Regions from separate parts of the Homo sapiens genome. Here all the other regions are reported to be linked to region 3. Evidence: microRNA targets listed by miRTarBase, many of them from high-throughput screens and not tested one by one. Region 3 holds a microRNA gene; each other region holds the end of a gene's coding sequence.
What was found. The annotated mature microRNA hsa-miR-376a-5p reads GUAGAUUCUCCUUCUAUGAGUA and lies in region 3 at 2,165-2,186, opposite strand. An mRNA with a match to its seed (bases 2 to 7 or 8) in the 3' UTR can be bound and repressed. Matches are read on the target gene's strand: a 7mer-m8 pairs with bases 2 to 8, a 7mer-A1 pairs with bases 2 to 7 and ends in A, and an 8mer does both.

Region 1: miRTarBase lists SOX11 as a target of hsa-miR-376a-5p. Seed matches in the 3' UTR shown: 7mer-A1 at 2,388-2,394 and 7mer-A1 at 4,997-5,003.
Region 2: the mRNA of CREB1 is a reported target of hsa-miR-376a-5p. Seed matches in the 3' UTR shown: 7mer-A1 at 4,776-4,782 and 7mer-A1 at 2,969-2,975.
Region 4: miRTarBase lists SRSF11 as a target of hsa-miR-376a-5p. The part of its 3' UTR that is shown has no 7-base or 8-base seed match.

What each region holds. Positions count from the first base shown.
Region 1 is chr2:5,693,094-5,700,191 of GRCh38, forward strand. It overlaps SOX11 (SRY-box transcription factor 11), which reads left to right. Exons shown (of 1, transcript NM_003108.4): 1 at 1-7,098. The coding sequence ends at 954. Among named protein-coding and RNA genes, the nearest start is that of SOX11, 4.3 kb to the left of the region's middle. RefSeq lists silencers at 3,514-3,603, 3,894-4,063.
Region 2 is chr2:207,596,135-207,603,250 of GRCh38, reverse strand. CREB1 (cAMP responsive element binding protein 1) reads right to left here. Exons shown (of 8, transcript NM_004379.5): 8 at 1-6,337. The coding sequence ends at 6,193. It also overlaps a transcript of METTL21A not described here. Among named protein-coding and RNA genes, the nearest start is that of METTL21A, 26 kb to the left of the region's middle.
Region 3 is chr14:101,035,853-101,042,973 of GRCh38, reverse strand. MIR376A1 (microRNA 376a-1) reads right to left here and starts at 2,192; the gene lies at 2,125-2,192. It overlaps MIR376C (microRNA 376c), which reads right to left and starts at 3,284; the gene lies at 3,219-3,284. MIR376A2 (microRNA 376a-2) reads right to left here and starts at 2,905; the gene lies at 2,826-2,905. It overlaps MIR654 (microRNA 654), which reads right to left and starts at 2,755; the gene lies at 2,675-2,755. It also overlaps MIR376B and MIR300.
Region 4 is chr1:70,250,252-70,257,372 of GRCh38, forward strand. It overlaps SRSF11 (serine and arginine rich splicing factor 11), which reads left to right. Exons shown (of 12, transcript NM_001350605.2): 11 at 114-252; 12 at 357-2,801. The coding sequence ends at 554. Among named protein-coding and RNA genes, the nearest start is that of SRSF11, 32 kb to the left of the region's middle. RefSeq lists a silencer at 3,672-3,872.

The sequences.
Region 1 (7,098 bases), not on the chromosome of region 3:
AAAATGGACCCCTCGGCCAAGCCCAGCGCCAGCCAGAGCCCAGAGAAGAGCGCGGCCGGCGGCGGCGGCGGGAGCGCGGGCGGAGGCGCGGGCGGTGCCAAGACCTCCAAGGGCTCCAGCAAGAAATGCGGCAAGCTCAAGGCCCCCGCGGCCGCGGGCGCCAAGGCGGGCGCGGGCAAGGCGGCCCAGTCCGGGGACTACGGGGGCGCGGGCGACGACTACGTGCTGGGCAGCCTGCGCGTGAGCGGCTCGGGCGGCGGCGGCGCGGGCAAGACGGTCAAGTGCGTGTTTCTGGATGAGGACGACGACGACGACGACGACGACGACGAGCTGCAGCTGCAGATCAAACAGGAGCCGGACGAGGAGGACGAGGAACCACCGCACCAGCAGCTCCTGCAGCCGCCGGGGCAGCAGCCGTCGCAGCTGCTGAGACGCTACAACGTCGCCAAAGTGCCCGCCAGCCCTACGCTGAGCAGCTCGGCGGAGTCCCCCGAGGGAGCGAGCCTCTACGACGAGGTGCGGGCCGGCGCGACCTCGGGCGCCGGGGGCGGCAGCCGCCTCTACTACAGCTTCAAGAACATCACCAAGCAGCACCCGCCGCCGCTCGCGCAGCCCGCGCTGTCGCCCGCGTCCTCGCGCTCGGTGTCCACCTCCTCGTCCAGCAGCAGCGGCAGCAGCAGCGGCAGCAGCGGCGAGGACGCCGACGACCTGATGTTCGACCTGAGCTTGAATTTCTCTCAAAGCGCGCACAGCGCCAGCGAGCAGCAGCTGGGGGGCGGCGCGGCGGCCGGGAACCTGTCCCTGTCGCTGGTGGATAAGGATTTGGATTCGTTCAGCGAGGGCAGCCTGGGCTCCCACTTCGAGTTCCCCGACTACTGCACGCCGGAGCTGAGCGAGATGATCGCGGGGGACTGGCTGGAGGCGAACTTCTCCGACCTGGTGTTCACATATTGAAAGGCGCCCGCTGCTCGCTCTTTCTCTCGGAGGGTGCAGAGCTGGGTTCCTTGGGAGGAAGTTGTAGTGGTGATGATGATGATGATAATGATGATGATGATGGTGGTGTTGATGGTGGCGGTGGTAGGGTGGAGGGGAGAGAAGAAGATGCTGATGATATTGATAAGATGTCGTGACGCAAAGAAATTGGAAAACATGATGAAAATTTTGGTGGAGTTAAAGTGAAATGAGTAGTTTTTAAACATTTTTCCTGTCCTTTTTTTGTCCCCCCTCCCTTCCTTTATCGTGTCTCAAGGTAGTTGCATACCTAGTCTGGAGTTGTGATTATTTTCCCAAAAAATGTGTTTTTGTAATTACTATTTCTTTTTCCTGAAATTCGTGATTGCAACAAAGGCAGAGGGGGCGGGGCGGGGGAGGGGAGGTAGGACCCGCTCCGGAAGGCGCTGTTTGAAGCTTGTCGGTCTTTGAAGTCTGGAAGACGTCTGCAGAGGACCCTTTTGGCAGCACAACTGTTACTCTAGGGAGTTGGTGGAGATATTTTTTTTTCTTAAGAGAACTTAAAGAACTGGTGATTTTTTTTTAACAAAAAAAGGGACCATTGCAACTTTTGTTAATTTAATTTTTTTTTTTTTTTTTTTTTTTTTTTTTTTTGGAGGGAGAAAACTGATGTCTTCTATGCATCCGATTCTTAACAAAACTGCAGGGAGCTTGAAAAAATGCAGACTGTACAAACGCTTACAAAAAAAAAAACTGTGAACTGACTTAAGATCAGAGTTTACTTTTCAGATCAAATTGTTTATGGTTTTACAAATGTGATTTCTACTTGCCAACTTTTTTTTTGTAACTTGTTCCCTTATACCTCCTTGATTGAATACCAGACAGCCTAGACCTCAGTACAAAAGGTATTGAAACATTTTTGATACATAACAGACCTCAGTCTTTTTTAAAAATTAATATATTTTCAGGCGTATTTTTGTACAGTGAAAAGGGAACATTCTTGCTGTGTTTTTTCAGTAAGACTTTCAGGCACTTCTTCCCTTTTGATTTCTTTTTTTTCCTCTGTTTTTTAGCATGCAAGTATGTTGGTACGTTATGTCCTGGTTTAAAAAGGATTAAAATTTTAAAATAATCCTTGCATCTAAAGGCCTTGTGGTTTAAAAAAAAAAAGCAAACTTTTTTTTGTACAGCTATAGTAGAGATTTGTTCAATATTTGTAGGTAAAGATTTATTGAAAATGGTGATATAGACCTCAGAGCTGTTATCTTAGTTTAAAGATTGTATATGTACTGTACTATAGTAGGACTTTATGTATCTCATACGCTGTGATGTGGATGGGGCCCCAGATGGAAGGTTTGAAACTGGATTCTCGATTTTTAGCAAAAAAGAAAAAAAAAAGGCACATAGTTTAAAAAGTTTCTCATTTTGTGCAATATAATCTAAATAAAGTACAGACCATCTGCATATTTTGTAGCAAATGGTGGCAAAGCAGACTCAATGCACTGTCGACATCATTGCCTGTTTTTTTTTTTTTTTTTTTGTGCTGGAAGTCTGTATCTTGACAATTTTAATAAATCAGCTGGAACTGATAGAAACTCGCATCGCCAATAGTCTCTATGGAAGTCAAACTGGAGGTCCTGTTGTCGCAGAGCATTCGGTGGTGAGGCTGTTGTGTGCGCGGATGAGGGGAGGTGGCAGGAGAGAATTCTACATTTAGGGGGTTAGGCTGAAAAGTGTTCAATTAGCAGGCTGATTTCTTTTTCCTCTTCCGCTAGTTGTGAAAGACAGGGGAAGGGTGTTCTTTCTCTCTGCCCTCCCTTTCCATCTCCAGCTCCCCATTTCCTTTCTCACCTCCTCCTCCACTCCCTGCCTCTTCTCCCCACCCATCCTGGCGGGCGGGCTGCGCGGAGGCTCGGGAGCTGGCCGGGGAGGGGCGGATGGAGGGGCCTGGGTTGCCAGCTCCCTTGGTCGGGGTCCTGCTCGCTGGGGCTTGTGTGTTCTCTGCGGCGGGCCGCGTCCCCGCTGAGCCTCGCGGTGACAGCCGCCTTTGGCAGCGAGCGCTCGGGGCACTTCTATCCCCGCCTCTCAAAGGGTGGGGACAGCCGTTTCCAGATTTGAATTTTTTCTGTTCTTTATTTTTAACGCTGCATCTTCGCGTGTGCTCAGAGGTGGTTGTTGGCGGAGAACGCCGCCGCAGTGTTTGACCTCTAGCGGTGAAGGGGGAAGGGGAAGAGGAAAGGAGAGAAGTGGTCGGTGTCTGTTTCCTTCTGTCCCCCGGGGCCGTGGAGCTGTCGGAGGGAAGGAGGACGGTGCGGGGCCGCAGGGGGCGCGGGGCGCGGCGGGACCCAGGCTACGAGCGGGAGGGAGGCGGGAGTCGGGGGAAGACGCGGCAGGCCGGCCGAGGGCACCCCGAGGAACATGGCATGGCCTCTGTGCGATCCGAGTCGCGGTCTCCGGGGTGCCTGGGAGGGCCGAACCACTGGTGAGGGCGTGGGGAGCAGGGGGTGGCAGAGGGCACCCGGGCGGTAGTCCGGGACGCGCAAGGCAGAGCCCTGACGCTCCGGGTCCCCGTGCCTGGCTCTTCTTGCCTCGCCACCGCGTGCTCCTGGGCGCGCCCCGCCGCGGGCCCTTGAGGCGCGCGGAGACACCAGCGCTGGCTTCCCGGGCCCGCGGGCCGGGGAGGGAAGCCTCGGGGCTGCGGGGTGAGAGGAAGAAAGCAAACCCGGGGAGCAGGCGGCTGCCGCACCCGCGCACCCCGGGCCCTCACCACGCCCTCCCCGCGCGCCGGCTCAGGGGCTGCCCCGGAATCAGCTCCCCGGGGCCGCCGCAACGAAGGTGGATCCGCATCTTGATTGTTCTCCGGGAGCCTCCTGGGGGCTCCGGCGGCGGCGCGGGCGCGACCCATCCCGCTGGCGCTCCCCGCTCGCTGAACCCCGTTTGCCTGTCCACACCCCCTCGCTCCCCACCATTTTTCCTGACCGGCCTGTGTCCCCGAGCCCTCGCGGCAGGCCCGAGCAGGCGATCGCGGCCGGGCACGCGCGCCCCGGGCTCCCGCCCCCCTTCCGAGCATCCGCCGCCTCTTTTCTGCTGGGTCTGGGAGGAGGGAGGCTGGGAGGCCGCTCGGGGCCCAGCGTGCCAGCCCCGGAGTTCAGCCTCCCGAGCTGCGGCGCCCGCAGCGGAGGAGGTTTTCAGTGGCTGATTGAAACTCACTGCAAAATCACCACGACTCTTTCACCTACTGAGATGATTGACCGAGGTTTGGCCTTCCATTTTTACTGAGATTTGGCGAGACCGAATGGAAGCGTCCGCACAGTAACTGCAGCTGCTAGGCCAGAGGGGCCCCGGCGCCCTTCCCGCCTCCCCTCCCGCTTGCTTTTGCCTTACTCGATCTTACCACCACCCCTCCCCCGGCCCCCCGACTGAGAACTCGGGCCTCTCACCCGCCCCCCAGCCTCCCGCTCTGGGCGAGCCTCCTCCCCAGCCCCCACCCCTGGGATGCGAAGCCAGCAAGCTTTTGCTGCAGATGGACAGGTTTCTTTTCTGTGGCTTTTTCCTTTCGATAAACCATCAGATTTCAGTAGTACATTTGGGAAAAGAAGGGGCTGATGGCGTTAACCAGGTTCTCAATATAGAACTGGATTTCTGGAGTTGTTTACCTTACCCCACACCCCCTCAACATGTAGACTAATGCAGCCATTGGTGGTACATTTATTTTAGCCACGGATAATTGAACCAGCGGTTTACAATTGACACGTGCTCCGTGCTGGTGATTTTATGTGGCAGCCCTCTGCTGCAGTTCCGAAACTTGTTGGCAACGTAAACCCATTGATAGGCTGATCTATGTATTTTGAAAGCCTGAAAACTTGGCATGTCTTTTCTGTTTTAATCATAGATGAATCTTGGACATTTTCTGTGGTGAGGTGGAAACTTTAAGTAAATTAGTAAAGTAATAATTTGGCTTCAGAATGGGAAGAGATAGTCAAGATTTTTTTTTTTTAAAGCCATGTGGCCTAACTTGATACAAAAATAAAAGTAATTGTTTGGCAATCTAAATTTAAAACCTGTTAGAACTCAGGACAGGCGCTTCAATGCGCTTTTTAACAATATTTAAGGCTGTTTTGATGAGTGCGTTGTGAGAATCATCTTAATGAATTCTTTATTGAGTGTCTAAAACATAGTATAATACACATGGTATTCTTGCCACTGGATAGTCTTCAATAAAAGTTTAATTGATTTTTTTTTGTTGGTCTCTTAAGTAAGTCTTATTTTTAACTAAGCATTGACAGAATATCTTAAAATGGTAACCTGGGGGTGGCGGGTGGGTGCTGTGTGCACGGCAGCCTAGCCAGTGGGGATCCTGCTGTTTATTATAAGTAGTTCACAGACTCTGATGGCATTTTGGTAAGCTTTCCATCTTTAAGAAATTGAACCAGCATTCTCTTATTAATTCTTTAAACTGTGGAAGTAATTTCCAGTTCTTACACTCTGATACGCATCCCTTTTATTTAAAAAAAAAAAAAATGCTAATAAAAGGCAGTGTACTTAAACTGTGCTTTGCAAATATTGTGTATGTTATGAATGACTACAGACACTGGGCAAATTATTTGTAGAATGATTATCCTTTAGCTAGAGAAAGAAATCATTACAACTCTTTTGGGCAGAGATGTTTCTTTTTAATGTTAATCAAGGGGAAGTGATTTAAATATGCATAAATGTAGCAGTCAGGGTGATTTAGTTGCTTTTTTCATGAAAGAAAAAGACTCAAAAGACAAGACTTATTTTTCTCTTCTGGGACTTGAAATCATAATCATCTGATATTAGTACAGTACAAGAAATTTACATTTGTTTTTTACTTCAGAATTTAAGTGACTTTTGCCCAAGGAATTTGAGAAATAAGGCAAATAAGTTGCTCTATTTTAAAGTAGTCATTCAATATAAATATATTATATCAATCTTAACTTTTTTATTCTCTGATATGATTAATAATATGTATATTCTTACTTTTCTTCTAATGGGCATATGTATCCTTGTGGACACTTTGAGAGAGGTTTTCTTGGACTCTCCCATTTATAGAATCTTTATACTCTTTTACTGTGTGGTTCCCTGCTTTTAACAGATTTCTGAGGCAAATATATTTGTGCTTTTTTCTTATGTAGGAAGACCAGCGAAAATAGTTTACTGAGTTGTCAATTTTATCAGTAGATAAGAAACTTTCTTTATTACAGTTTCAGGGAAGATTTTTTCAGGATATTTCTCAGTTATTCTAAGGGCCAAATTTTGTAAAATTTCCATTAGGAATGTCAGTTTCAAATACCCTTTGTATAGCCTAAGCCTGTGAGGATAACAAGAATGAGCCTTACCTATCCTAACACAGGGATTTACAAGTTCCCAAAGTAACCGTCTCCATGTAACTCTTGACATACTTTTCTGAGATTTGGCTTATTTTTATTATTGGTTATTTCTCACTGTTCATTCTATTTGATTTATTCTACAACATCCCCTTTTATTTAATGATCTGGAAAATTCTGCTCTTTGATAACAACTCAGGATTTTTTTGTTCAGTTTTGGTTTTTGCCCCTTCCTGTGGAGCCTACATTTTCAACCACAATAAAGATGAAACAAAATTTATGAAACTGAGCTCTCTTCCATTTTACTTACTGCTGGCTTTTTTTTTTTTTTTTTTCCTTGATTCCTACCATACCTTCGTTTTTTTCATTGTACTTTTTTAACACTACCTATATCCATTAGCTGCCTAATTAGTTTTATCTGTTCCATGTGGATGCAGTGAGTTTATAAGAGAATTTCACAAACAAGTAGTTTTTTAGTGAACTTAAAATAAACAGAATTTTAAAGGAGACCTATTTTTATACTCAATAAAAGCACAAAAGTGCAGAAAGTATAAAACGGCTTACAAAGGGAGACACAAGCTCATAATGTTCCATGTATAAAAGTAATAACTTTATTGGGTAGAGATATTCTTACAAGATCTAGCACCTCTGCCAGTGCACAGATAGGACTGTTTTAAATGATTTGGGAACTTTTGGTTGCCTGCAGTTGTGAACAGAGAACTTCTCTACAGAGAAACAAACCACTAAAAGCAATATGACCGAGTTGAGATGTGGTTTCCAATGAGCAATTGGTGAATTT
Region 2 (7,116 bases), not on the chromosome of region 3:
TATGTACATAGTGTTAATAAAATGCATTGTAACTCAGTACATTTTTTTCTTTACACATAAAGCACAAAAAGATTTAGATAAAAAAATTAAAACAGGGATGTTTCTAGAATGTAGGGAATTTTATTAGAAATGTATTTCCCTCATTATAGTTATTTATTTAGTATTCAACTCCAATAGAAACATCAGAGTTAAAAATCAATACCCTGTTTTGTGCTGACAGTTGTGGGGGAAGTCTTCTTTACCCCAACCCTCAAAAACCAAAAAGCCAAACACCTTTCTAGGAACTTCCCTGATTATTTTGCTTCTAAAAAGTTTCAAGTGATACATCTGGGTTAGAAATAATTCCTTTTGCAGGGAGTGGGGGAGTTACAACTGACATGTGGACAAATCAGTCAAGGACAACTTTACATGGAAAACTGCTAACTAGCACTCTTCTTTGCCACCCCTAATAAATCTATACTCAAAAAAAATGTTGACAATTATTTCCCACTTTTAATATAAATAATTTTATTACATACACAAATTGGAGTGGCACTTGGATAAAAATACATCTATAAAGCATTTACCAATTTTAAAAACATAAGAAAATAAAACCTCCCAAACACAATGATAGATCATTTCACTTGGCCAACAAACATAAAATCATTATTTGCAGAGATTTTCTTCCTCCCTACCAATTTTTAAGCTAACTCAGATTTACTCTCACTTCTCTGAGATGCTCCTCAGACAAAAGCTTGGAAATGCCATACTTCTATAGGCAAGTAATGTTAGGTCAAATGTGAATTTCCTACTCTTTGATCCTTTTCAAAGACAATTCCAAAAGATTGTTCATTTTCCTTTTACTTGCTGGTGAGAATAATTAAAAATGTATCATGTCATACCCAGCTGGGACCTGCACCCACCGTACCAGAATGCAGACAGGTCAGTATTTTCTTTCTGTGCTAAAACTGCCTGTTTATAATATCAACTTGCATCACCGGCTTTGTTCTATTTTATTTATATATTTTTTAAATTTTTCTTTTTTTAAAAAATAAATTTCAAGCTAAAACACCTGAAATATAATCCCTCCATTCAAACGTTATCTGGTCCCTCTTAAAGTCGGTCTGCCCCCTGAGGACACATACAAAGGCTTAAGCTACATTCACTAATCAATAAGAACTTATCATAAGCAGATGAGACAGATGGAACTTCAGCACCCTGTTTATTTGAAAATTTTCCATACTGACTCAGCTTCATGATATGTTCAGCCCCTCAAAGATTAATGCCTCTCCTAGCCATTGATTCTAGAATGTCAAGGAAACCAGTTCCTAGTACATACAGTGACTGTGTAGCCAACTTAATAGTCAACATTATTACATTAAGAATATTCAAGATGTATGTAAGCCTCCCAACAAAAAGTTCTAGTTGTGCTTTGTACAACTGAGTGAACTATTTATCTCACAACTCTTCACCTACAGCCTTACTATGCACACTTTACTTTCTCCTTCCTCATCTGAAATCAAATTTAGGCAGCATTTCTTTGATGTTAACAAAGCCATTAAAAATGAACATATTTCAGTATATTACATGTGGTCTCTGTGAGGACAATTGCTTTAAAAAGTCTTGTACTATTCTAGACAAATTAATGGATATTTTGGCATACTATGTACAGTATTAATGTTGTGATGAGGATAAAGTCTCATTAAAAATTGAAAATAAATATTATGCACTTGAGTTATTTTCCCTTCAATCTTCATCCAAGATGAAAAAGAATAAAACAAGGTTTGAGCCCGTCTTTTAATTAACTGGGCTAGTCATATCTAATTTCCTGATGTTTTTCTTTTACAGCTGTTTTTAAGGCTAGCTTTTAGGTGCTAAAATATTTTAATCAATGAAAAACTTCCATTTAAAAAGTCACATGATTTGAAGAGAGGAGAAAGACTAAAAAGTTGAGAATTACTTGATGAGGGAATTTCTTAAGTTGCTAATACCCAAACTGGGTCATTTAAAAAAGTGCAAGTTACACCAAACATTTACAAAGGACAGAATGTAAATATAATCCAAATAAATATACAACTTTTCTATTGGGTCCATGAGGGAAAAAATATACCAACAGCTTTCAGGGCTACAAAGGCAACAAAAATAAAGCCTCTTGAAAACAACTGAAAAGGTATGTAACACTATTTCTAAAACTCACTTTAATTCAAGATCTTAACTTTAAGATACATTAGCCCTACTTAATCCTGCAAAATGAAGCAGCCGTGATCTTCAAAATAAACAGAGACCAATTTATGGTAATAGCTGACTGTGGCTGATCATAGAATTAAAAATTTGTTAAATATTAAAAGAAATCTAGATTGAAGTCACTTCAAGTAAGTAAAGCATCCTGGTTTAAACAAACGTATTTCTTCCTAAGCCTTTGTATGATTCCACATGTCACCCCAAAAGGTAGAAATGATAGTAGGGATTTGTCCTACAGGGATTTATCCTGAGAGACAGAGATAAACTTCAGCCAGATGACATCTGATGGGATAGGCTGCCTGACTGGTATTGTGCTTTCAGAGACTAGCACTGCTGCTGACCTACCATCAAAACACATTTTCTGACAAAATCCCTGCTCAAATGAAATGCCAAAATTCCTCCCCCAGGATGATTTTTGAAAAAATCAGTGGTTCCTTTAAAAAGCTATCTTCAAAATGTTCTTACCACTGTTATAGCTGCCACAGACAAAGCATACAAACCAAATACTTTTGGGGGAGAGGCTTTCAAGTGACTAGTAACATATTTAAAAGTATCAAGCCAAAGAAAACTAATAAAAAATAAAATACTTGGAAGAAAATTAGAAGATAAAATCAATCATGAGTGCTGGAGTAATGCAGTCATAGAAACTACCAGAAGGAATGCAACAGAACACACAAAAATGTAAAATTTCATCTGACCTCAATATACTATAATACTCAGCATTCCTGACTTAAGAGCTCTCAGAGCTTTAGATTATATACTGTATGTATATATATATATATATATATATATGTACACATATATTATACAAATGCCACCCCCCCCAAGAATATCTAAATGAAGAGAGCACCTATGACAATATTATGGTTGCCAATATGGTACTTGAGTTTGAAAAAGAATGAACTTAAAATTGTATCTGATAGCAATTATTTAATAATGAACACATTGGATCTAGCCCTTTCTAAGCCACTTTTCAGTTAAACATTATCAAAGCTTGAAAACTCATAAGAGTAATATATCAAAAATAAACCCCTCCCCACTTCATTTTTATTAATCTGTCCTATAGATAAAAGTGCCACATGGCCCTATATTTGCAAAGTGAGCAATATCAAACTTGCTATTTTCTAGGCAAATCAGTAGCATATGTACAAATTCCTATGATGACATTTTTATTCCCTTTTGGCCAATATAAAGAGAAAAACATTTATTACTGGTAATGTGGCCACATATGTTCTTGGCTACAAGGTTTTTAAAAATTATGTCATTTTCTTAATAAAGATTCTCAAAGTTTCATGCTTACAAACAAACCTCCCCACCATTCTTGCATTAAAAAAAGAAAACTGCACAAAAGATGCTTGATTTTATCTTTATAAACTGAAATCTTCAAGTTTCACCAAGGGTCTAAGACAGATTTAGCAACAGGATACATTTCTCACCTCATCATTAAGCAACTGACTTCAAAACCAGTGCAATCATCCTCAAGGTATGAAGGATAAGGTCTTTATAACTTATAAATTCATCCAGCTCACATGAATGTGATTGCCTTGATTTATCAGGGACTAAGAGGACCACCAACTTCCCAGTAAGTAGAAAGCCTGAACTTTTGAAAAAAAGCTTTAGAGAATACAAACTGCTAAACATCAGGCAATTTTTCATTTATAACACTTACTTCATTCAAAATGTTCGATTCGACATTTTGACTCAATAAATAATTCCAACTTGTGAACATATTTGTGACTTTGCTTGATTTCTGTTAAACCAGTTTTTAAAAATGACATATCTATGCGGTTACACAATTTTTATGCTATAACTTTCCCCATTAGCTCAGCAGGACAAACATCAAACTTTATAGTTGTTTGAAAGCCTTCTTGAGAATCTGGTGAACTGTCCAAACATAAAGACTACATCACTTAATTCTTAGAATGATGCTCCTTCATAAACTCTGTTCATCCTTGAAAAAAGACAATGGTTTGTTACAAACGAAAATATACCATTTACAAATGTTAATTAAAATCTTATTTTAAAATGGATCCAGCAATTAACACTTAAATCTTCATATTTTGTTGTTAAACAAGCTTGACTTTCTTAAATAACTCTTGACTAAATATAAAACATTAGTTTTCTAAGTGTCTCAACTCTTTTTTAAAAGGAATTTCCTTCCCAAATGAGACATTTTTTTTATTTTTATTTTTTGAGATGGAGTCGCCCAGGCTGGAGTGCAATGGTGCTATCTCGGCTCACTGCAACCCTCTGCCTCCTGGGTTCAAGCAATTCTGCTGCCTCAACCTCCTGAGTAGCTGGGATTACAGGCGCCAGCCACCACGCCTGGCTAATTTTTGTATTTTTAGTAGAGATGGGGTTTCACCATGATGGCCAGGCTGGTCTTGAACTCTTGACCACAGGTGATCCACCCACCTTGGCCTCCCAAAGTGCTGGGATTACAGGCGTGAGCCACTGCGCCCGGCTCCAAATGAGAAATTATAACCTAACATTATGTCAGTTTCCAATTTTTAAAATCCACCTTAGTCTTTTTTTTTTTTTTTTAAGAGTAACTGTTAGATTTATCGAGCTTAGTGAATAAAATGAGTAACAATTAAAAGTGGTATTGAAAACAATGTATGATATACACAAATACAGACTGTTTTAATCAGGAATTAAAATTATAAAATGACAAAGGCTATACAGCATATTGGAAAGCTAAAGCAGAACTAATAACTACTCTTTTTACAAGAGAACAAAAAAATGTTTTGTAAGAATGACAATCCAAATATTGCAGTACAGCAGTCATTCAAATATGTCTGAAAATAACTTTCCTTGTGCACATCTAACACTGTACTTTTTATATCCTTACAACTTCTTTCATTTAAAAAATTCACTAGAGATTCTCTGTTAAATTGTTAATATGGAAAATATTTAAAATCAGTATTTTTCTACATGTAACATTTCATAAACAAATATATATCACTTTGCTTTATTTGACATCTTGAAGGCTTTCTTGGTGGTGGTATGTAAGTGCAATGGGCAACAGTAAATTAGAAATATCTTTTTACGTAAATGAGTGACAATATAAATATTTTTGAAGGTGAGGACAATAACATTTATTTAAAAATCTTGTTATATAACTCAAGGGATTGGTTTACTGATCAGCATTTTACTAAGAATTTAGTACTAACTAAAATATGCTTTGTACTTTTATTTACTTTGCTTTAATTTAAAATTCAAATACCATGCTTTGTCGTTCAGTTGGTTACTTCTTTTAATGTATTCAAAAATGTTGAACACATACAGAACTGAATTAAGAAGCAACAACTGCCCTATGGAAGAGCTGTATTAGTACAGAATGCTTTTAAGAACCAAGGACAAATTTTCAGTATTGAAGAAGACAACATACATAAAAAGCACTCCAAATTCATTTCTAATTCCTTCAATACCATGCTAAAGTTCTTTTTTAGAGGGTATGTCTCTTAACAACTTTACATAATTCACAATGAGAATGTGACAACATGTCAATTTGGCAATCAACACTTCTTCATTGCACCTTACTTACTTTATGCATGCGGCCCACACATTACTTCAGCTCAAGAGGCTGGGGTAATTCTGTCCCTAAGGCAATCAAGGAGCTCAGCACAAACCTTGAAATCATTTTTAAAAAGATTTTCTTTTCCTCATTTCTCCCATCAATTTACAAGTAAACAAATTATTACTTCTTGAGGAGGGTGGGGGTTGAAAAGCAGAAGTCTCTTCATGATTCCTGGCGTTGAAAATTTCTTGAGGGGAGAAGTGGAGGCAGGTGTTGGAACATTCACAGTTTAATGCAAAAGCACAAATGAATGAAATTCTGTAGTTGCTTTCAGGCAGTTTTGCGCATAGAAAAAAAGAAATGTTTAGAAAATAAAATGTTTATTTTGTCTTTCAGGTTGTGGCCAAGCCAGTCCATTTTCCACCTTAACAGGTGAAAATTTAAATCCCAAATTAATCTGATTTGTGGCAGTAAAGGTCCTTAAGTGCTTTTAGCTCCTCAATCAATGTCTTGTTTTGATTTTCAAGCACTGCCACTCTGTTTTCTAAACATTTCACATATTCTTTCTTCTTTCTACGACACTCTCGAGCTGCTTCCCTACAAGCAAAAGAGGACGGGAAAAATTATGCAAATGATTTCCACATATTTATTTTGGATTACCTTTTTTTTTTCTTTTTTAAAGAAATAGCTCACAGCAACCAACATTTTAGTATATATTAAGCATTGGAAAAGATATACAGAATTACTTGGAAATTACCTTATATTAAAATTTTAATCTGGCCAGGCGTGGCGGCTCACGCCTGTAATCCCAGCACTTTCGGGGGCCAAGGCAGGGAGATCACCTGAGGTCAGGAGTCCAAGATCAGCCTGGCCAACATGATGAAACCCCTCTCTACTATAAACACAAAAATTAGCGGGGTGTGGCGGCACATGCCTGTAGTCCCAGCTACTTGGAAGGCTGAGCCATGGGCATCGCTTGAACCTGGGAGGCAGAGGCTGCAGTAAGCTGAGATTGCGCCACTGCACTCCAGCCTGAGTGACAAGAGTGAGACTCCGTCTCAAAGAAACAAACAAAAAAACAACTCCATAAACAAACAAGACCTAAATGACCACTTAAAAATTACATCTTACTATTAATTAAAATATTCTGCATAATTCCTGCAAAACTTGAAATTCTATCCATATCAATAACTAAGAAAACATTAAAGCTAAATTTCAATGTGTAACAATCCTTTAAATAGAAAATCTTACAAACTAATCATTTCAGGGCATTTAAAAAAATCTAACAGTCTCTTCAACAAATGGTGCTGGGAAACCTGGATATCCACATGCAAAAGAGTGAGGTTGGGCCGCACCTTATGTTGTACACAAATATT
Region 3 (7,121 bases):
TGGCTCAAAGAGCAGGTGAGGACTATGCCGGGTCTTCGCCGGAGTGGACATCTCCTCCTGCGAGGCCTGAGACCAAGGGGGAGGGGCCAGGTGACAAGCCTCATCTGGCTGGCCCTGGAGCTGGGGCCTGCCATACAGTTGACTTTACTTCCCAGCATCTCTTCACGACAGGATTGGTTACCAAAAGACAGGCAATCCTGTACCATTTGAAATAATGTAAATGTAAAATGGCTGAAATCCCTTTAGGGCCTGCAAAAACACCCTGGGAGAAGAACCTCTGCCTCTGCCCAAAGCCACTGCCTCCAGGAAGCCCTCCTGGTGAACACTGGCTAAGGGAGGTTAGAAGATGCAGTCACATGCATCATTAAAGAAAAAAGAGAAACAGAAATCCAACGCACTCCGTTTGCAAATCACAAAGCAGCACTATGACAAGTGTCCCTTCTCCTGAATTTGGCATTGTATTCAGAAAGCCATCTGAGCAGTTAGTTGTTACTCAGAAGTATTCATCTAGGGCAAGATTCGTCAAAGGAAAATGAGATTCTCATGGGCCAACTCTCTCTGAATAAACACATGCTAACACCAGGAATCCAAGGGTCTTTCCATTGGCAAGAATCCCTAAAGGACACCAATGGACTAAGAGAGCAGTGGGGCTTAGAGGTCCCAGCAGCAAGTCCTGTAGCCACACTGGGTGCTCTGGGGCCTCCTTCCTGTGGACTGGCCTTCCCTCAAGTGGACAGTGAGGTCCAAAAGTCACTCCAAGGATGGGCTAGGTATGGAGAGTGGGTAGACCAGATGACCCACATCTACATTAGACATTGACTTTGCTGACGGTCATTCTTTCATGTATCTGGGAGATGCACTGACCACGAGACCTCTTCTCAGAGGCTGGCATCATGCTGGGCAGACCTGCCGGAGTAGCAGCCCATGGATGCTTTGTGATAAGTAGGGCCCATCAAGGGAGGCCCTTTGTTCTTTTCTTTTTTTTTTAACCTATTGTGTTGAGACAGGGGTCTCTGTCAGCCAGGCTGAAGTGCAGTGGCACAATCTTGGCTCACTACAACCTCCCAACTCCCGGGCTCAAGTGATCCTCCAGCCTCAACCTCCTAAGTACTGGGACCACAGGCGCACACCATGACACCCAGCTAATTTTTGTATTTTTTGCAGAGATGGGGTTTCGCCAAGTTGCCCACGCTAGTTTCGAACTCCTGGGCTTAAGCCATCCACCGTCTCAGCCTCCCAAAGGGCTGGGGTTACAAGCGTGAGCCACCGTGCCCGGCCAAGGTAGGCCCTTTTTGCTAGGCAGAACAGGTGGTCTGAAGAGAAAACCCTATATCATCTCCAAAGCCAGCATCTCTTCCAGAAAGTTCTTGGAAGGAAGCATGAGATGAGGAGGGTCAGAGAACCAGGTCACAAACAGCAAGACAGAGGCACATGCCCTGTGGTCAACCATCCACACCCCAGGGCTATCCTGGCCATCTAACAGGTTGCTGGAGTCAGCCTTGTTCCCAAGAAGGCTTCCCAGGCAGGATTTGCTCCCCAGAGAGAGTCTGCCCTTGTATAATCATTGCAAGTAAAGCAAATGCGTGAAGGATTACCTCTCTTCAAGTAGCAAATGATGGCAGTGACAGGAAGGCCATTTCCTCTGTGACTAAGTTGCCACCAGCTCCAGGAGCAAGCCTTAGAGACACAGATGGGATCTGCATGGTGAGAGCAGCACACCGAGGTGTGAAGTGCAGGCCCGTGGGTGAATCACACATCTATTCCTTCCATAGCCCCTGAAGCAGTGCCCCTTCCTGAAATTGACAGCCCACTCAGGTATTCTCTAAGGTACAACTAGTCACAGTAAAAGAGGTTCATTCCAGAAAATGCATTGCAATCATGGTAAACATACAGAGAACAAACTTCATTCAAGGTCAATGAGGCAATACTGAGAACACAGCCTTGTAACAACACATTATGTGTGCACCAAGGGCAGTGAGCAAACAGCAGAGAAGCTGACGGCGTATTTCATACAAAGTACAATTCTGTGTCTGTCCGTCCTGTACCCAGGAGGGGTACAGATAACATCTCCTCTTCCATGGCGACTTCACGTCCTCCGAGGTTTTCAAAGCAGCATTTGATACTGAAAACGTGGATTTTCCTCTATGATTAATCATAAATAATGTACTCATAGAAGGAGAATCTACCTTTTAAATACCAAAGAAGGATTCCATCCAGGAAAGCGTGCACCTGTGCTTGAGTCATCAGAAAAGAAAGTCACATGAGGCAGACGAGCTTCCAGGGAAGAACTGGCACCACGAGACCCACAATTTAATCTTCACCAAGTTGGCGTCTCGAGATGGTTCTCGGGCATACCCCGTTCATTCAGATACGACGTGCGGCCTACCATCTTTGCACCTACTCAGGCCCTACGGTCTCTTCCAGAAACATTTCCAAAGCAGCATTTGATACTGAAAACATGGATTTTCCTCTATGATTAACCAGGAATCACGTAAACATAGAAGGAATATCCACGTTTTAAATACCAAAGAAGGACTGGGCTCTGGAAAGGACAAATCTGAACACAGTTCATGGAAAATGGAAGCAAGACAGTAAAGCAACCGTTTTCAGTCCCGTAGCATAGCTGTGACAACACACCACAGCCTGTGCACCAAGCTGGCTCCTCAGCGAAAGGGGGCTTCTAAAGGTGATGGTCAGCAGACATATGGCACGAACTCAGCACATGTTCTGCGGCCCACCATCTTTCCACTTACCCTGGAGGGCTCAGCCCCACCTCACGTCCCTGATGGTGGCTTCAGTCCAGCCATGATCCCAAGGCAGCATTTGATACTGAAAACGTGGATTTTCCTCTATGATTAACCATCAAACACGTAACCATAGAAGGAAAATCTACCTTTTAAATACCAAAGAAGGTTTCATCCCGGAAAGCACGAACCTAAGTACAATCCATCAAACACAAAAGTAACATAGCACAGAGGAGAGCATTCGGCCTCATGGAGAAAATGACGACGGAGCCCAGCCGCTTGGCCGAGCGGGCAGCTTGCGAGAGGGGTCTCCTCAAGGCGGGTGGGTGGTCCGCAGACATATGGCACGAATTCAGCACATGTTCTGAGGTCCACCGACTTTCCACTTACCCTGGAGTGGGGGGGGGGACTTTATTGTCTCTTCCCTGATGGTGGTTTCAGTCCAGGAATGTTTCCAAGCAGCATTTGATACTGAAAACGTGGAATTTCCTCTATGTTTAACCATAAATAACATAAACATAGAAGGAATATCCACCTTTTAAATACCAAAGAAGGATTGAGTCCTGGAAAGCATGAACCTAAGCACAATCTATCAAAATTAAAGACAGCACAGGATAGGTGCAGTCGGCAGGGGCCTCCCGGGCTAGCGGCAGTGACATGGGCCCTGCGGAGGACGCATGTCCCAGGACAGACCTTGCTAACAAGAGCTTAGGTTCTGGGATTCACCTTCCATCACTCTCCGCATGGGGGAGGGAGCTAACCTTCCTCTCAGAAATGTTCAGAAATGTTTTAAAAGCAGCCTTAGATACTGAAAATGCGGATTTTCCTCTATGATTCACCATAAATCCTGTAAGCATAGAAGGAACATCCACCTTTTAGATGGGAAAAGTGGGAACAGCCCTGGAGAGCACAAACGCAAACATGATTCATGAAAGACAGAAGGTAACAGAAGCAGGTGAGCACTTTGCGAGTCCCACGTGGGAAGCGCAGGGCCCACCCCTGGCCTCTTCACATCCAGAGATGGAACTCCTATGCAGGCAAACGTAAGTTTGGGGTCTGCCCTGCTGTCACTCGTCTGGGTGGGGGTAACCCTAATGTCTCTTCCCTAATGGAGGCTTCATGGTCAAGAGCGTTTCCAAAGTAGCATTTAATTCTGAAAAAAAAAAAAAAAAAAAGTGAATGTACATCAAAAATTTGCCACAAGTAAAGCAGGCAAAGTAGGGATTCTATGCTTTGAATTCGAAAAATATCAAAAACAAAAAGAAAATAAGCCTGTCAGGTTCCTAAAGTCACATCGCCTCCATGAAGCCCTCCCAAGGCACCTAATGACCAATGTCATGTAACTGTGGGCTGGAGCATCCTTCACATACCTTGGAGGGAGAAGGACACCCAAGAATCTTCCAGAGACTGAAGCTTGTGTCCAGAAAGTTTCAATCGGCAGGACTGGTCATGTTGGTGTGACAGACTGAGGAATAGGCAAACAGGTCAAAAACAATGTCTCTTTAAATACAACTGAGAGAGGTAGCAAAACATGATGCTCACCAGCCCCTACCACCACCACCCTCCACCACCACCACCACCACCACCACCAACACCACCAACACCACCACCACCAACACCACCACCACCACCACCACCAGTACCACCACCACCACCACCACCACCACCAACACCACCACCACCAACACCACCACCACCATCAGTACCACCACCACCACCACCACCACCAATACCACCAATACCACCACCACCACCACCATCACAACCACCACCACCAACACCACCACCACCAACACCACCACCACCAACACCACCAGTACCACCACCATCACAACCACCACCACCAACACCACCAACACCACCACCACCAACACCACCACCACCACCACCATCAGTACCACCACCACCACCACCACCACCACCACCACCACCACCACCACCATCAGTACCACCACCACCACCACCACCACCAATACCACCATCACCACCATCACCACCACCACCATCACCACCACCACCACCACCACCACCACCACCACTAATACCACCCTCCAAAAACAATGATCACAGCTTCCAGAAAAATCATTTTTGGGGTGGAGTGGATGCAGAGGCTTACTAAAATAGCGACAACACATGCCTCCCATAGCAAAAAATGAAGGACCAATAATCCCAGACTCAAACCCTATCTCGCAAGGGTGCCATCACTCCAGGAAGTGCCGCTAAAACGGCTTCAGTTCTGAGGACCAGGAGACATTTTCCACAAGCAAAGCGTATGCTCCATGTCCCACCCTCCATTCACATTCCACACACGGACAACCTACACCAATCTCACTTCTCTAAAGCTGGAACTGGTTCAAAAAAGTCTTGTACTTGAAAACCACTACTTCTCACACATGCAGAGTTAGACATTCCTCCTACTGGCGAATGGATCAGTGAGTGGACCAGATAACACCCATTGTCTGCTATTAGCCAGTCCCTCCCCTGCAGTCACAGCTTGTTGAGGAAGCAAGTCTGATCCCCCGAAGCCCCCAAGCACGATTTGGCATAAATAAAGCACGTCTACATGGACAAGCATTCTGCACATACCAGCCAGAGCAAGGCCACTTCCCCCAGGTCGGGGCTGCCTCCACGAGGCCCTGTTGAGAACCAGTGGGACATAGCTGGTTAGGGAATTGGACGGTCTGAGTCATAAACATGTATTCTGTGTGGCCAGACATCATTCGTGTCCCAAGGAGTGGGTCTTGCCAGGATGGTCCTGAAGGAGGGGGACATGTGATTGAGGAATAGCTGCTGGCTGGGCTTAGGGGTCTTCTTTTGGTAACTGAAACAGCGGCAGCCTGGAAGAGCTGGGGTAGGTGTAGTAACCAGCCAAGGAACTCTTCTTCCCCTGTGTTGGGAGAAAGGTCAGCCCACACACTGTCTCTTCCAAGGGGCTGGCATCCCTCCCTGAGGGGCCTGGCTAGGGTACCCAGGCTAGTGAACTGACACATCCGTGTCTGCCCCGGGCCCTCAGCTCTAGGTGCAGCTGACTCCCCAGGCCCTGCTGTGGGATGTGGCTGCAGCAGCCCTGCTCAGGACTTGTCCTTAATTGCATATGCCCCTAATTGGTTTCTTCCGCTTTTTTCACCTGCCCCCTCCCCACTTCCTCCTGGAATGGGCTTCCCTGATGGTACTTCCTCTGTGATTAACCATAAATCCTGTAAGCATAGAAGGAACATCCACCTTTTAGATGCAAAAAGTTGCTGGCCAGATGCAGTGGCTCACGCCTGTAATCCCAGCACTTTGGGAAGCCGAGGTGGACGGATCACCTGAGGTCAGGAGTTCGAAACCAGCCTGGCCAACATGGCAAAACCCCATCTCTACTAAAAATACAAAAATTAGCCAGGCACGGTGGTGGGTGCCTGCAATCCCAGCACTTTCGGAGGCTGAGGCGGGCAGATCACAAGGTCAGGAGAGCAAGACCATCCTGGCTAACACAGTGAAACCCCATCTCTACTAAAAATACAAAAAATTAGCCGGGTGTGGTGGCGGGCACCTGTAGTCCCACCTACTCAGGAGGCTGAGGCAGGAGAATGGGATGAACCCGGGAGGCGGAGCTTGCAGTGAGTCGAGATTGCGCCACTGCACTCCAGCCTGGGCAACAGTGTGAGACTCCGTCTCAAAAAAAAAAAAATCAGTTTGCCTCCCATGTAGTCACAAACATTCCCATCCTCCTCACGTATTTGCCATTTTTTTTTCCAGTGTATACCTATGTCCTCCCTATTCTTTAGAGTTTAAGCTTTGGCAATCAAGAGACAAGCTAGTGTATATTTTGCCATTCTTCTAAAACTCTGAAAACTGTGTTACACATGGTTTTGTTCATATTTCTTGGTCCATTTCTTAACAAGAAATTGGTGGTGTAGGACCTAACTTTTTATGTATAGATTTACCTTAGGAAACAGGATTATATGGTGATTCATTCAATAAAGTCTCAATTCTCAAAAGAAAAAACAAATAAAGGAAAACACTTGCCAGCTGTTCCACCATCTGCGCACATACCCTCTGCGAGGGGCTGACAGACACCCACACTGTGTTCCTGAACTTCACACCACGTACAGCAAGTCCTTCAAGGAGGCACTCAGTGCTTTAGGAGGTCCACTGTGGGGTATCTGCCACACACAGAGTGAACACATCACCAATAGCCTCCCTCCAACCATTCCTGGCCGGCTTCTGGGGTGCTGTCTCTCTTCCAGAGCCCAGGGTGTCCTCCTGCAAAGGAAACAGACGGCAAGGGTTAACACACAAGGATACGTACCATCAGAGATGCAAGGCTTCCTTGAGGCCCTCCTCTGACGTACCTGAGGTGATGGAGGCAACAGTGACCCTCTCCTGACATAA
Region 4 (7,121 bases), not on the chromosome of region 3:
TCCAAGGTTTTGAAGTTGGATCTTTGCTGTACTACTTATATCCTGTGAAATTGAGTCAGGCTCATCATCTAAACAAGTTAAACCTGTTGCTGTACATTTTACTGTCATTCTAGACATAAAAAGGAGAAGAAGAAAGATAAAGACAAAGAAAGAAGTAGGGATGAAAGAGAACGATCAACAAGCAAGAAGAAGAAGAGTAAAGATAAGGAAAAGGACCGGGAAAGAAAATCAGAGAGTGATAAAGATGTAAAAGTATGTTTACAAATTGATTTATTTTTATATTTGGGGTGATGTTGGTACTTTCAGAAGTTATTTTTCTTTGGAGAAGTTTACTTTTATTATTCTCCTTGGCAAAGCAGGTTACACGGGATTATGATGAAGAGGAACAGGGGTATGACAGTGAGAAAGAGAAAAAAGAAGAGAAGAAACCAATAGAAACAGGTTCCCCTAAAACAAAGGAATGTTCTGTGGAAAAGGGAACTGGTGATTCACTAAGAGAATCCAAAGTGAATGGGGATGATCATCATGAAGAAGACATGGATATGAGTGACTGAATATTGCCTCTGAGGGAGTCCAACTGTATACCTGCATCAGTGTCATTCCTTTGTGTGATTTCTTAATGCTGTATTTGTTCATCTCAAACCTAGATGTATACAGCTCTGAGTTATAAATGGTTATAAAGCTCCTGTTACTCATATTAGTTATTTACATCAAAAAGCTTTTAGAAAATGGTACGAGGTAACCAATTCTTGTCATGGTGAAATCTGATTGAGTAACCAAGCAGTTTTACTATTCTGGTGCTGCTTCATAACAAAAATGAAAAGCTGCATGCATCTACAGCAGGCATGGATTGTTTATGTCGTATGATATCCTTTATTAAGTAAGTTCACTTATAGTATTTCTATAATTTGATTCATTGCCGTAATAGAGCCATGTAGGAAATGCACTGATTGCATGTTATTGTGGCAAGAATATCCTAAATGTCATTAAAATCCTCCAACATGATGGATCTACTTATGGTCTTGTTTGTTGACATGACAAATTAACATTCTTATAGTTACATCTGGAAATGAGCATTTGAAATAGATAATCCTTTAAGCCTTGTGGCAAAATTTTTGTGGCTTTTGTTTAACTTTGAAAGGTTATTATGCACTAACCTTTTTTGGTGGCTAATTAGGGTTTAAATACAGAAACAAGATTTCAAATAAAACTGTCTTTGGCAGTGAGTAAATAGCATATTTTGAAGTAGAGTTGTATACTTTTTCATAAGATGTTTGGGAATTTTTTTCCTGAAGTAATAATTTATTCCACATCTACATCAGTGAAAGCTATCTACCTATCCTGAGTCTATCTTAAAGGAAAAAAAGAAAAAAACCTTATCTCTTGCCCTTATTTTGAATTTTCCACTCTTTCATTAATTTGTTTTAAGCTCCGTGTTGGAAAAAAGGGGTAGTGCATTTTAAATTGACCTTCATACGCTTTTAAAATAAGACAAATCTACTTGATAATGTACCTTTATTTGATCTCAAGTTGTATAAAACCAATAAATTTGTGTTACTGCAGTAGTAATCTTATGCACACGGTGATTTCATGTTATATATGCAAAGTAGGCAACTGTTTTCTTAGTTACAGAAGTTTCAAGCTTCACTTTTGTGCAGTAGAAACAAAAGTAGGCTACAGTCTGTGCCATGTTGATGTACAGTTTCTGAAATTGTTTTACAAGACTTTGATAATAAAACCCTTAAACTTATGTTCATGTTCCTGTAAAACCGTATTTGTATTTATTTACGCTACTGAATGTATGACATTTACCTCATTCATTTTACAAATTCTTTCCCTTTCTGTCCACATATTTCAGTATAGTAAAAAGAGGAAGTCTATCACTGTAGTGATAATTGCCATCAAAATTGTCAAAAATGATTTAATTTCTATCCAAAATAGTCCTTTTCTTAGCTTAGTATCATTTTATTGCTTATTTTTTGTGTGGGAATGGGGTTGGATAAAGCAATGAACTTTAGTATAAACAAATCCCACCTATATCTAGCAAATTTATATTTTCGGTGAAATACAGATATTTGCCTTTCTGGAGTAGTATAGAAGCTGTCAATATGTATCTACTGTACAGTACTAAATAGTATTCATTTATGAAATGAGTAGTGTTTGGGTGGCTGGGGTTAAGGGAAAATGAGACTTGGAATTGTAGCTTTTATCCAAGTTTTGAGTATAAATAGGGTTTTGTTTTGTTTTTTTTAACCTAAAAACTGAAATGCCATATAGAAAAACAGCATTGTTTTTACAGTTTGTAGTAAGTAACTTTTTAAAGATTTTATCAAAAAGAATTGTCTATAGTGAGTAAAAGAAGTTCTAATAATGGTCCTAATCACTGCATTTTTAAAAAACAAAGTTCAACACAAATGACATTTGTTTTAAACTTTAGTAGATAAAAGGTGAACCATGTGACATGGGCATTTTTGTAAGTCAAAAACAAATTTCACATATGGTAAACCTAATATTCACAGTGTGTTCCCTCACTTGTAATCTCTGAATACAAATATACTAGCTTTTCTAAAGGGAATCATTTTTTTAAAAGTAGTGCCACTGACAAGATGCTACAGTGAAGATTATCCATTCTTAGGATATTTATTTTCAGTGAACATTTTCTGCACAAAGGTAGTGTTGCACTGGGACACAAGCCTTTTAACAGATAACCAGTTGAAATCAAACACTGCCTCCACACCGAGTTCTGTTGTGTATTTGATAGTAAATTGATTTAAAAATAAAAGTGGTTTTTGTTAGAAAAATGTTTTGTCCTTATTTATTTGCTTAAATCCTTTAGGAGTGAACGAGAGGTGGTAGCTATACAATGAGCTTTTTTAAATGGAAAGATAAGAGTCCAGTCATGCATTTGGTCTTTATTTCATAGAGCTGGAGATAACTGTGTTCCTTACCTTCAGTTTCCTACGGGTAAAATGGAAGTGATTGCTACCTTGCAAAGTACAGACATACCTCGGAGGTATTGTGGGTTTAGTTCCAGACTACAATAAAGCAGTTCATGAATTTTTTTGGCTTCCCAGTGCATATAAAAGTTGTTGGCTGGGCACTATGGCTCATGCCTGTAATCCCAACACTTTGGGAGGCCAAGGCAGGAGTGCTTGAGCCCAGGACCAGCCTAGGCAACATAGCAAGACACTGTCTACAAAAAAATAAATAGCCAGGTGTGGTGGTGCACACCTGTAGTTCTAGCTACTGTGGAGGTTGAGGCAGGAGGATCACTTTGAACCCAAGGAGTTGGGGCTGCAGTGAACTATGATCATGCCACTGCGCTCCAGGTTGGGTAATAGCAAGACCCCATCTGTATCTGTAAAACAGTAATTTTTAAAATGTAGCCTTTGGTGCCTGGGACATTAAATGATAGCTGCTATTTGATTATGGGGCCCTTAAAAGTTATGTAACTAATAATTTGTGTAGGGGGTAATGTTAAAAGCACAAAATAAATTGCATACCTTTTATTGAAAAGGCTGTGTTGCCCTTAACTGTTTTCATGAAGATGGATCTTAGGTAAGTTTCCTCGTGGCAATTCTATACATGGAAGACAGAAAAATGCAAATAGGCACTTGGGAAAAGGAAGGAGAGGATAAAAATTACTGTTAACCTTGGAGCTACATCTTAAAACTGAGTCAGGTTCTGGAGTGTGCATTATACAGCTTATGTCATGCAGATTACAGTATTAATACATCAAATTTATCTCTAGCAAAATTATCACTCAGTTGGGCACTAGATGAAGGGTTGGATCCATGCATGCTGTTTGTAGATTGATACACATCTTTTCAAATGGAATTGAGATTTCTTTTCCCTCAGTCTGCCTCAAAACCAGCTAATGCATTTCATCCCTGTGCTTCTATTTTTTCTAATCAAGTACATGTGGTTGTGTTTTAATTAAATATGGGTGTAATGGAATTGTTACTCATACTTTTAAAAGCATTCAGAATGTCTATTAAGGTTTTATTAGCAGAAGTAGTAATTGTACCTTTATAAATTTCTCAATGAGACAATTTTTGGAGTGGTAGATATTTTGAATTTCAACCTGTTTTACTCAGTTTTGTTTCTATTCCCATTTTCATTTTATGTCAAAGTATATGTGAAATTTATTTAGACATTCTTAGCAAAATATCTTAGGTGAGTACCATGACAATTCTTTTATCAGTGGTAATATTCTTTAGAATATACTTAAGGTTTATCATAGAAGATGGTTAGCAATCGTGTGTGTGTGTGTGTGTGTGTGTGTGTGTGTGTGTGTGTGTGTGTGACGGAGTTTCGTTCTGTCATGGTCGTCGCCAGGCTGGAGGGCAGTGATGCAATCTTGGCTCACTGAAACCTCCGCCTCCCGGGTTCAAGCAACTCTCCTGCCTCAGCCTCCCGAGTAGCTGGGACTACAGGCATGCACTACCATGCCCAGCTAATTTTTGTAATTTTACGCGAGACGGGGTTTCACCATGTTGACCAGGATGGTCTCTGTCTCCTGACCTCGTGATCCGCCTCCCAAAGTGCTGGGATTACAGGCATGAGCCACCGTGCCCGGCCGATGTTTAGCAGTCTTAAGACAATTTACAGTCTGATATGACTAATATTTCTAGGTGACCAATAAAATGTTCTTACAAAAATAATGGAAGTGACACATTCACATCATTCTCAGATTTCTCAATTTATTAAAGGTTATTTTTGCAATGCACTGTCACTAAAATTAGTACCATGATGTCTTTTTTAAAAAAAAAGCTAGTTAGGGCTGGGTGCGGTGGCTCACGCCTGTAATCCCAGCACTTTGGGAGGCTGAGGTGGGTGGATCCCTTGAGGTAAGGAGTTCGAGATCATCCTGGCCAACATGGTGAAACCATCTCTACTAAAAATACAAAATTAGCCGGGTATGGTGGTGCATACCTGTAATCCCGGCTACTTGGCAGGCTGAGGCAGGAGAATCGCTTGCACTCAGGAGGCGGAAGTTGCAGTGAGCCAAGATCACGCCACCCCACTCCACTGCACTCCAGCCTGGGTGACAGAGCGAGATTCTGTCTCAAAAAATAAATAAAAATAAAAAGCTAGTTTGCCAAAATATGGTTTGCGCATGAGAAATTGAAGGTCTAGGGTCACAAAAAATAGAATGTTCCAAATGATGTTTAATATCATTCACGTTCAGTTATCCCAAAATGTAATTTAAAAAATTACTTTCTAGCAGGGCGCGGTGGCTCACGCCTGTAATCCCAGCACTTTGGGAGGCCGAGGCCGGCAGATCACGAGGTCGGGAGATTGAGACCATCCTGGCTAACACAGTGAAACCCCGTCTCTACTAAAAACACAAAAAAATTAGCCGGGAGTGGTCTCAGGCGCCTGTAGTCCCAGCACTGGGGAGACTGAGGCAGGAGAATGGCATGAACCCAGGAGGCGGAGCTTGCAGTGAGCCAATATCGCGCCACTGCCCTCCAGCCTGGGCGACAGAGCGAAACTCCATCTCAAAAAAGTTATTTTCTGACGGGCATGGTACCTCACACCTGTAATCCCAGCATTTTGGAAGGCCCAGGCAGGCAGATTGCTTGAGCCCAAGAATTCAAGACCAGCCTGGACAACATTGTAAAACCCTGTGTCTTAAAAAAAAAAAAAAATACGAAAATTAGCCAGGCATGGTGGCACGGACTTGTACTCCCAGCTACCTGGGAGGTTGCGGTGGGAGGATTGCTTGAGCCCGGGAAGCGGAGGTTGCAGTGACCCAAGATTGCACCACTGCACTCCAGGCAAAGCGACAGACTGTCTCAAAAAAAAAAAAAAATGGTTGTGCTTTCTGCAAATATACTAAATGTAATTTTGACGTTATGTTAAATGTAAAAACTGCTTTTTTATTCACTAAATTGGCAAAGTTAAAATGTGTTCATTTAGGCCGGGCGCGATGGCTCAGAGGCCTGTAATACCAGCACTTTGGGAGGCCAAGGCAGGCAGATCACGAGGTCAGGAGATCGAGACCATCCTGACTAACACGGTGAAACCCGGTCTCTACTAAAAATACAAAAAATTAGCCGGGCGTGGTGGTGGGCGCCTGTAGTCCCAGCTACTAGAGAGGCTGAGGCAGGAGAATGGCGTGAACCCGGGAGGCGGAGCTTGCAGTGAACCGAGATCGCGCCACTGCACTCCAGCATGGGAGACAGAGCGAGACTCCGTCTCAAAAAAAAAAAAAATTTTGTTCATTTAAATACCAAATTTTGGAAGACAAGCATCAAGTAGATTAAGAACATTTTTATCTTTCCACAAAATTAATATATCAATCAGGATTCAGAGAAGCAGAACCACTAGAAGATATACTTTTTAACAGATATGACATCAACAATGGTGAGACCTAGTTAAGCAGTTTGTAAGGCTTCATCTTTGCATCTGATGCTGGAGGTTGAAGTTCATTTTAGGCAGTTGGAAAGCAAAGGTGAATGATTGAGGGAGGGATGGTGGCACTAGGAATAAGCTGGAACTAGCCACAAGCACAAGCTAGAACCACAAACATGGACTGACACTCTGGTCAGATCTCGCTGCTTCTGACCTTGGTGGCATGGATGTCCTTCCAAAGCCAGGACTCTTTATCATGGAGCAAAATATAGCTGGCCCATGAGTCTGAGAAGCTGAAGGAGGATTTGGGGACAGTGGAACAACTGCAGGCCCAACTGCAGCCTCATCCCAAAGGAGCAGCAGATAAGCCACAATGTGTATGAGCTACAAAATTTGTTTCACTTCAGCCCTCCAAAACTCCTACATTATCCATATTCATTAGTCATGCATTGCATAATGTTGCCTCGTTTTGGTCAACAATCGACTGCATATAGGATCGCAGTCTCAAAAGATTATAAAGGAGCTGAAAAATTCCTATTACCTAGAGACATCGTAGCCATTATAACATCCTAGCCCAGTGCATTATGTGTTTGTGGTGATGCTGGTGTATACAAACATACTCTGCTGTCAGTTGTATAAAAGTATAGTACATACGGCCGGGCGCGGTGGCTCACGCCTGTAGTCCCAGCACTTTGGGAGGCTGAGGCGGGCAGATCACGAGGTCAGGAGACCGAGACCAACCTGGCTAGCACGGTGAAACA